2 separate regions of the Homo sapiens genome follow, and region 1 is reported to be linked to region 2. The links are microRNA targets in miRTarBase. Many come from high-throughput screens and were not tested one by one. Region 2 holds a microRNA gene; the other region holds the end of a gene's coding sequence.

The links. Region 2 holds the annotated microRNA hsa-miR-2277-3p (UGACAGCGCCCUGCCUGGCUC, at 3,335-3,355, shown strand). A microRNA usually pairs through its seed, bases 2 to 8, with sites in the 3' UTR of a target mRNA and lowers its output. Matches are read on the target gene's strand: a 7mer-m8 pairs with bases 2 to 8, a 7mer-A1 pairs with bases 2 to 7 and ends in A, and an 8mer does both.
Region 1: miRTarBase lists ELOF1 as a target of hsa-miR-2277-3p. Seed matches in the 3' UTR shown: 7mer-A1 at 2,662-2,668 and 7mer-A1 at 2,104-2,110.

What each region holds. Positions count from the first base shown.
Region 1 is chr19:11,550,977-11,553,976 of GRCh38, forward strand. ELOF1 (elongation factor 1) reads right to left here. Exons shown (of 4, transcript NM_032377.4): 4 at 2,070-2,834. The coding sequence ends at 2,770. Among named protein-coding and RNA genes, the nearest start is that of ELOF1, 6.8 kb to the right of the region's middle. RefSeq lists enhancers at 617-1,588, 958-1,252, 1,672-1,791.
Region 2 is chr5:93,619,884-93,624,064 of GRCh38, reverse strand. MIR2277 (microRNA 2277) reads left to right here and starts at 3,277; the gene lies at 3,277-3,369. It overlaps ARB2A (ARB2 cotranscriptional regulator A), which reads left to right. Exons shown (of 11, transcript NM_032042.6): 11 at 2,936-4,181. The coding sequence ends at 3,078. LOC124901028 (a long non-coding RNA gene) reads right to left here and starts at 2,383. Exons shown (of 3, transcript XR_007058874.1): 1 at 2,122-2,383. RefSeq lists a silencer at 2,719-2,768.

The DNA.
Region 1 (3,000 bases), not on the chromosome of region 2:
CCCACACTGCTCTCCCAGAGGCTTGTGGATGGTGGTGACAAAGAGCCTGAGTACTGGGACAGGCTAAATGGCATGTGAATCACAGAGCAGCTGCCTGGATGACCTCGGGCAATCACTTTCCCTCCCTAGACCTGTTTTCCCATCAAAATAATGGGGACAGTAAGCCTCTTGTGGTCATGAAATGACACCCCCAGATGGGGTGATGTTCTACATGTTTAATCGCTGGTAAAGACCAGGCATCAATAGAGAAAGGATGACAAGTAGGGGTCCTGGTGGGCCCTGTGGGCAGGGTGAACCCTTTAGCCCCAGACTGTGGGGAGGGGAAAGGGGACAGGGAGAGGGGCACTTCTGAGCCAAGGCAATGGCCCTTTACTGACTGGCACAGGGCACCATAGGGCACGGTTAATTCTGTGCGCCCCGCCCGCTCTCAGCCGTCTTAAGGCTGAGCCTGCCAACCCGGGACTCTAAAAGGCTGTGTCCAGGGCCTCAACCTCCTCACATTTCAGAGGGGACCCTGTTATCCCCGGGAGGAGGGAGAGGTCCCCAACCATCAGGATTCCAAGGAGGAGAGGAGGCAGAGAAGCGAGGAGCGCGGCACGGAGCTGTCTTCTCCCCAGGGAGGGCAGGAGTTGAGGCTGGAACGTGGAGACCTGCGGAGGCAGACACCAGAAGACCCGCGCACAGACGCACGCAGCCCCTGGGGCCTCGTAAACCGGATTCCAGGCGCTTTTGGCCTGGCTACCGCAAGTCCTGCTCCCCCTGGGCCGGCGCGGGGAAGCTATGCTGAGGAGGATCCGGGCCTGGCCCAGGGCCCTGCCTCCTCGGGAAAACAGCACCATATTAGCACTTAGCCTGTGAGGCTGGGGTGGGCGGGCGGCAGGAAGGGCCTCGGGTGCCAGAGGAATGAGCCCCCTTTTTGCTGGATCCCAGAGGGCCATCACCCTAAACCTAGGTGCCTGTCCACCACTCTGCGCATGTGTGCCGGCTCCTGCCAGGGCTAGCAGACCTTACCTGGGATCTTGGAGGTGGCGGGATAACCAGGGAAGACATGTCATGGCAGAGTGGGCCTGAGGGGGTGCACAGGCCAGACCCAGCAGCCCAGTCTGGCAGCCAGGGCTTCCGGGCCAGCTCAATGTCTCCCCCCGCTGTTCACATCCGTCAGTGCCCTGGGTGGGCCCCAGAGCCGCTCAAACCATGCCTGGCACTTCCATCCTCAGCATGGCTCCGGGAAGAAGGTGCTTTCATCCCCTGCACTGTAGCAACGAGGACTCTGAAGCACAGGTCACCTGCCACCCGGGCTCATGAGGCCAGGTGGAGGGTCTGGCACTGCCCCAGGTTGCTGGGTGTTGTGGTCCTTGTCACCGGTGCGACCAGCTAAGGGGACATCAGCCCTCAGGTGCTCCCCATCGGCCACACACATCCCGCCCCAACACCAGCCTTCTGAGAGTCCTCACCACCCTTGAATAAAGGCCCCTTTCATGTTTCCCTCCCGTGTCCCTCTTCCACTCACTACCTCCAGAACGGCCTGTAAGCTGTTCCCTCAGCCTGGACTCTGGGCTCACAAGAAGTCAGACTGTAAGCTGTGGAGCCTCGTTTCCTGGGTTCAAATCCCCCCTGTGCCACTTTCTGGCTGTAGGGTCTTGGGCCAGTGACCTCCTTCACCTCTAGCCTCTGTTTCCTCATCTTTGAACTTGGGGTTAGCTTGGCACCTGCCCCACAAAGTGGCTGTCAGGACACTGGGGCGACGCAGGAAGGCCAGAGGTCAGCGTCTGGCTAGAGGTGGCCCTACGGTGTCACTGTCTCAGCCTGCCCCTCCCAGAAGCCTCCTCTGACCACCTGTTCTGTCTCACCTCCCCCATTTCCTATTGTGACTGCTGTAAACACCTGGCCAGATGTCTGCCTGCTCCACCACCCTGAATGCTTACTGACTGAATAAAACGCTGGGTGGTTTGAAGGGCTGGTCACATGGGCCACCAGGCCACCTCCCGAACGTCAGAGCCTCAGGTCCCCTCTCCTTCTTCTGGTGACCAGGCAGACGCAGAACCCAAGACATCACGGACAGCAAGGGATGTGCGCTGGCTGCTTTATTTAAGGGCTTGTGATTGACAGCTGTCCCCATCCCAGCCCTTGCTTCCTCTACAAAAGCAACTGAACATGAAACGGGCTTCCTGGTTACCATGGGGAGGGGGGCGGCTCCCTGTCAGGGCCCAGCCCAGGGACCTGGGGAACGGCGGCTTTGAATCCCCGGCCACGGGCACTAGAAGGTGGAGAAGGAGAGCGGGAAGTCCAGTTGAGATGGGCACGGTGCTGGTGAGGAGGCTGGAGAGGTCCTGTTCCAGCCTCTAGTGGGCTTCCCTTGTCCAGGATGTCAGGAAACAGTCCCCCAATTCCGCCGGGGGGAGCCAGAGCCCCAAGGCTGGGGGGCCAGGGGCTGCAGGGAACACAGCAAAGGCTTTCGGAGCCAAGTGAGATCAGTTCAGGCCCCTCAGGCCCAGGAACCCGACACCACCGCGTACCTGTGAGCACACACTCACGGCCACCCCAGTGACACGTGCAGCCACACACACCCACACTCACTCACACCCACACCCACACGCACACCCACTACACACACACACACACACACACACACACACACACACACACACACACACACGGCTGTGACAGCCCAGGACCCACACCCTGGACCCCTGGAATGTCTCTGGACCAGAACCGAACAGCTGGATCCACAGTACGCGGGGCTGCTCAGGGGGCGGGTCCTCTGTGTCGCTACTGATTGGCCGCCTCGCAGGCGTCTATCCAATCACTGTACACATCCACGGGTTCTGACAGATCTGGGCCACTTAGGTCAAGGGCGATCATTGGCATTGGAACCCTGCCCTGCATCTTCTCACCCCACAGAAATCACTAGGTGGCACCTGTTCCTCTGGACGGCTTTGGCCCTGCACCAGGGCACACAGTGGGCCAGATGAGCAGGGTCCGGACTCCAGCCCCCTCCCC
Region 2 (4,181 bases):
TCAAAAGTTTCCATTCACTGAACATTGTCATGGATAGAGTTTCATATTCATCTGTAAATATTTTCACTGAACTTTGGACCTAAATTTTTGAAAATGGTCTCCAAACATATTCTTGAAATGTATATATGCAGTCCAAGTTAGACATGTAATTATTCAACTTCTGAATGGTATTCTAAAAATCATTTAAAATCTACTTCCAAAAATTTAGAAAAGACATTTTTATATTACATATTCATGTTATCATTCCTTAGTTTAGGGAGAATTCTCTCCCTTCCACCCCATTCTCTGTAATTCAGTTGCTAACCTACCTTATTACCTTTACTCCTAGCAATTTCCCTTCGTCTGACAGAAGCACACATTCTCATTATTTATACTCTTAAATTACAAGAGTAAATGTTGAGAGCCAGTACAAGTATTCAGTTATCTCAGGGACTCTGGTCTTTTCAGTCCAGGACTAATCAAGCAGAGAGTCATCAAAAGCTAAAACTAAAAAGCTTTTGTAGTGATTTTATCACCAGGGAAATCTGTTCATCCTTCAGAAGGATTGTTACCCGTAAAGAAGAAATAAAGGAGTTAAAATTGCTTCAGACCGTTGACTCCTTAGGTCCCTCTAGATTCATAGATTGAATTGGTTTCAAGGGGTGGGAGGAATTATGAGGGGAATTCCCTGAGAAAGCTTACAAATTGATCATAGCCTTAGTAACACTAGTAGGTGTAAGTGTGATCACTATGGAGGAAATGCCAAATGTGGCTGTAAGCTTGGGAAATGGTTACGAAAAGAGACAATTAACACCTTTTTTTTTTTTTTTGGCTTATTGTATTTGGGGGTGGGTGTTGCCACGTAGTATGCATCTGAGAATGGTCTTTCAAAATGAATTACAATTGATTTTAAAATGTCCTACCATTATAAGTGCAACTGTGTAGTTATTACTGAAGTGAAACTAGGGTTGCAAACACTATAGAATAGAGACACACATTTGATAACCCTATCCAGAAACTGGTCCTCCTAGATCTACCCGCAAATATCATTTAAAGCAGGTATGTCTGAGCATATGTAGAACTGCTCAGTTAGGTTTGGAAAATATAAATGCCTCCAAATTCAAAAGAATCCTTTAAGATTGTCATTTGAATAAATCAGTAAAAATATAATAATATCTAGATGTTATGTATTATAACACCTATTGATGCAAGCAGGCATATATATATAATTTTCCCCCAAGAATTCTATGAAGAATTGTCAAAATCCACCTAGCACTTTAGGATTTAACAAGATAAACCTACACTCATCCCTCCTTCCTATTGAGTAACAATGAATTTTGCCCAAAATGAGTAAGCAAATAAAATGACCTCATTTTTAGTCTGAGTTGGGGGATATGACTTTAATACTGGGTCTTAGTTTCAAATTCAAGTTCATGAGGCCAGTCTGCAGAGGAAAGGAGGATAGAGAGAATCCTTGGGAGGGCACTGATAAAGAGAGAGGGGTTCTCTAGTAGGGCCAGCTCCCACAGCTAAGTCAGGCACAGACTGTAGCTTTCTGCTCTCTGGCCGACAGCAGCCATAGCATCCTTATTGTTGTAACTCCTAGATTGTGATACTGTCACAAAACTGTTGCTAGGCAACAAATGTGGTTACCAGGTCTCAGCGAATAGCTGAAGGGGAAAGCAAAGTGTTGCACCATTGTAGAGTAACCATAGCAATGACCTACTATTACAGACTAAAGAATTATCATTAACAATGTTAAAGTATCAGACTGAGGCCCTGAATCCGGAGACTTCCAAGCGGTATCTCTCTGCATAATTGAGTGATCTAGGAAGAGATTTCAACTGTTTAAAAGCTATTCACTCATTATTTCTGTGGAAGTCTGTAATTATTTTAATTTTTAATTTTAAAAAGTGCTCATTTATGAAGCCACTGGTAAAATGCTACATAAGCCATCACAGGGAGTCAAAAATAGCTAAATGTATTTCCTCATCTGTTCTTATGCTTGCATCCGTGTTATCCGCTGCCTGTGTTAAACTGAAGGTCGATTTGATTTGAAAACATGCTGTACATTAGTATTACATCGAAACCACAGAGAGAAGCCGTAGTAAAATAAAGTAACCCCATAAATTGACAACTAACCTGCATTTTCTAAGTTGAATTCCTCCTGATAAAATGGGAGGCCTAGATGCTCTTTTAGTAGTCACGGCTTTGAAACCTTTTTTTTAGCTGTTCTAAATTTGCCCCTTAAAATCTGTAAAAATGTCGCCCGCCAGGACACTTCAAGGCGTAATCCCTTTTGAATGCGGTCCTTCATTAAGCGTCCCGTATGATTTGGTCTCAGTGACCTAGCTGAGGTAATTGTGTCTAACAGCACAGCTTCCGGGAGACGCAAGAAAAATCATTCCCCCTTCCCCTCCACACCACCCCCTTGGGAAGCAAGGAAACAGGCGCTGTGCGATCCCGCACGCAGGGGAAACCAATCCCCGCGCGCGCCGAGTCTCGGGAGTGGGTGGTTTCCCGGAGGGAGAGGGAGTGGCCCTTCCCGCCCAGCGCTTCCATTGGCCCGGAGAGGCGGAGGCCTCGGGCGGCCAGCCGCGCCTCGGACGACCCCGGGACAGATCCGGGCCGCGTCCCCGCGTTGGGAGAGGGATGGGGACTGAGGCCGGAGACGCCTAGACGCCGCGGATAGCGAAGTCTGAGTTCCTCTGAGCCAGGGGGCAAGTGACCCCGCAGCCCTAGTTGTGCCCTGGGAGTCGGCTGGCCCGCGCCCGCGAGGGGGCGGGGGTCCTGGCTGAGGGGCGGGGCGCGGGCGGCTGAGGCGGGGCGCAGGCGGGAGGGGCGGGGAGGGGCGGGACCGGGTGGTCGGGAGCCGGGGCTCGGCCTGGCCCTCGCCGCCCTCACCGCGCCTGGCCCCGCGTGGCCACCTGGTAACCGAATGTGTTGTTCTTTGCAGGCACCGACCGTCACGAGCTAACTTCCTGGAAGAGCTTTCCGTCTATTTTCAAATTCTTTACCGAAGCCTCAGAGGCCAAGACCAGCTCCCTGAAGCCGGCTGTGACGCGCCGCTCCCACCGCATCAAGCACGAAGAGCTGTAAGAGGAGCGAGCGCGACGGGGGAGGCCGCCCTGGCGCACCCACCCGCACGCCTCCTCACTGCTTGTGTCGAGCGGACTCCCAGCCCCTCATTAGATTGTTTTCTTCCCAGAGCCCAGGGTCGTGATATATACATCTAAATAGCGTTTTGCATTATTTCTAGATGAGTGCAACTGTCAAAGCAATATGGGTTCACTGGTCGTGCTTCCTGCGGGCTGAGCGCGGGCTGAGCGCTGCCAGTCAGCGCTCACATTAAGGCTGACAGCGCCCTGCCTGGCTCGGCCGGCGAAGCTCTAATTGCCCTGAAGGAGACCGCGCGGGCGCTGCGGGTCCGGCGGCGTCGGCGCGGTCCTAGCGCCCGCCGTAGCGGAGCCGCTGCTGCTTCCCCCTCCTTAATCATGTCCATCTTTCCCCGCTCTCAACTGGAGCAAACTTCTATTCCAGACTTCAGATTTCCATTTTCACTAGGTTTTTCCCTGAGGGCATCTTATTACCCACCTCTTTTTTTTTTTTTTTAAGGAAGTTCCACACACACTCCAAAGCCGATTTCAAATTCAGAACCTGAATGCCATGATGTACCATGTAGTTTGGGGAATGCAAATTGTTCTCTCCCTGTTTTCATTTCGGGACCAGAAAAAAAAACAACTCTGCATAAAAATCTATAAAGTACTGAATCCGCATTACTGCTGAAAATCCTTTTGCCAGCTAATTGTGAGAGTTTACACAAGTCTCTGATTTCAGAAGAGACTGTTAAAACCAAAACAATGATGGGCAGCTCTTTTAAGTGTAGGTGTGAAGGTCCCATTTTCAATGGAATTTCCAACTGTTATCACTGGGATTGACTTTACTTTTTAAACACATAATGTGTACTGTGTGGCATTGTAATTTAGATATAACACACTTAAGTTTTGCTTTTTAAATCTCTCTGTGGAGAAAGGTTGTTGTTAATCCTTTCCAGAATGATCTATTCTGAGCTTTCCTGGAGTTAGGCCCTTCTAGGGAGAGAATTTTTTTATTGTCATCAGGAAACGAAACCTTTGTGCTCTGCAGCCTTTTTCTTCTGAAAGGCTAAGTGGGGCTAAAATTATCCTTTTAGTTTTCTGCTT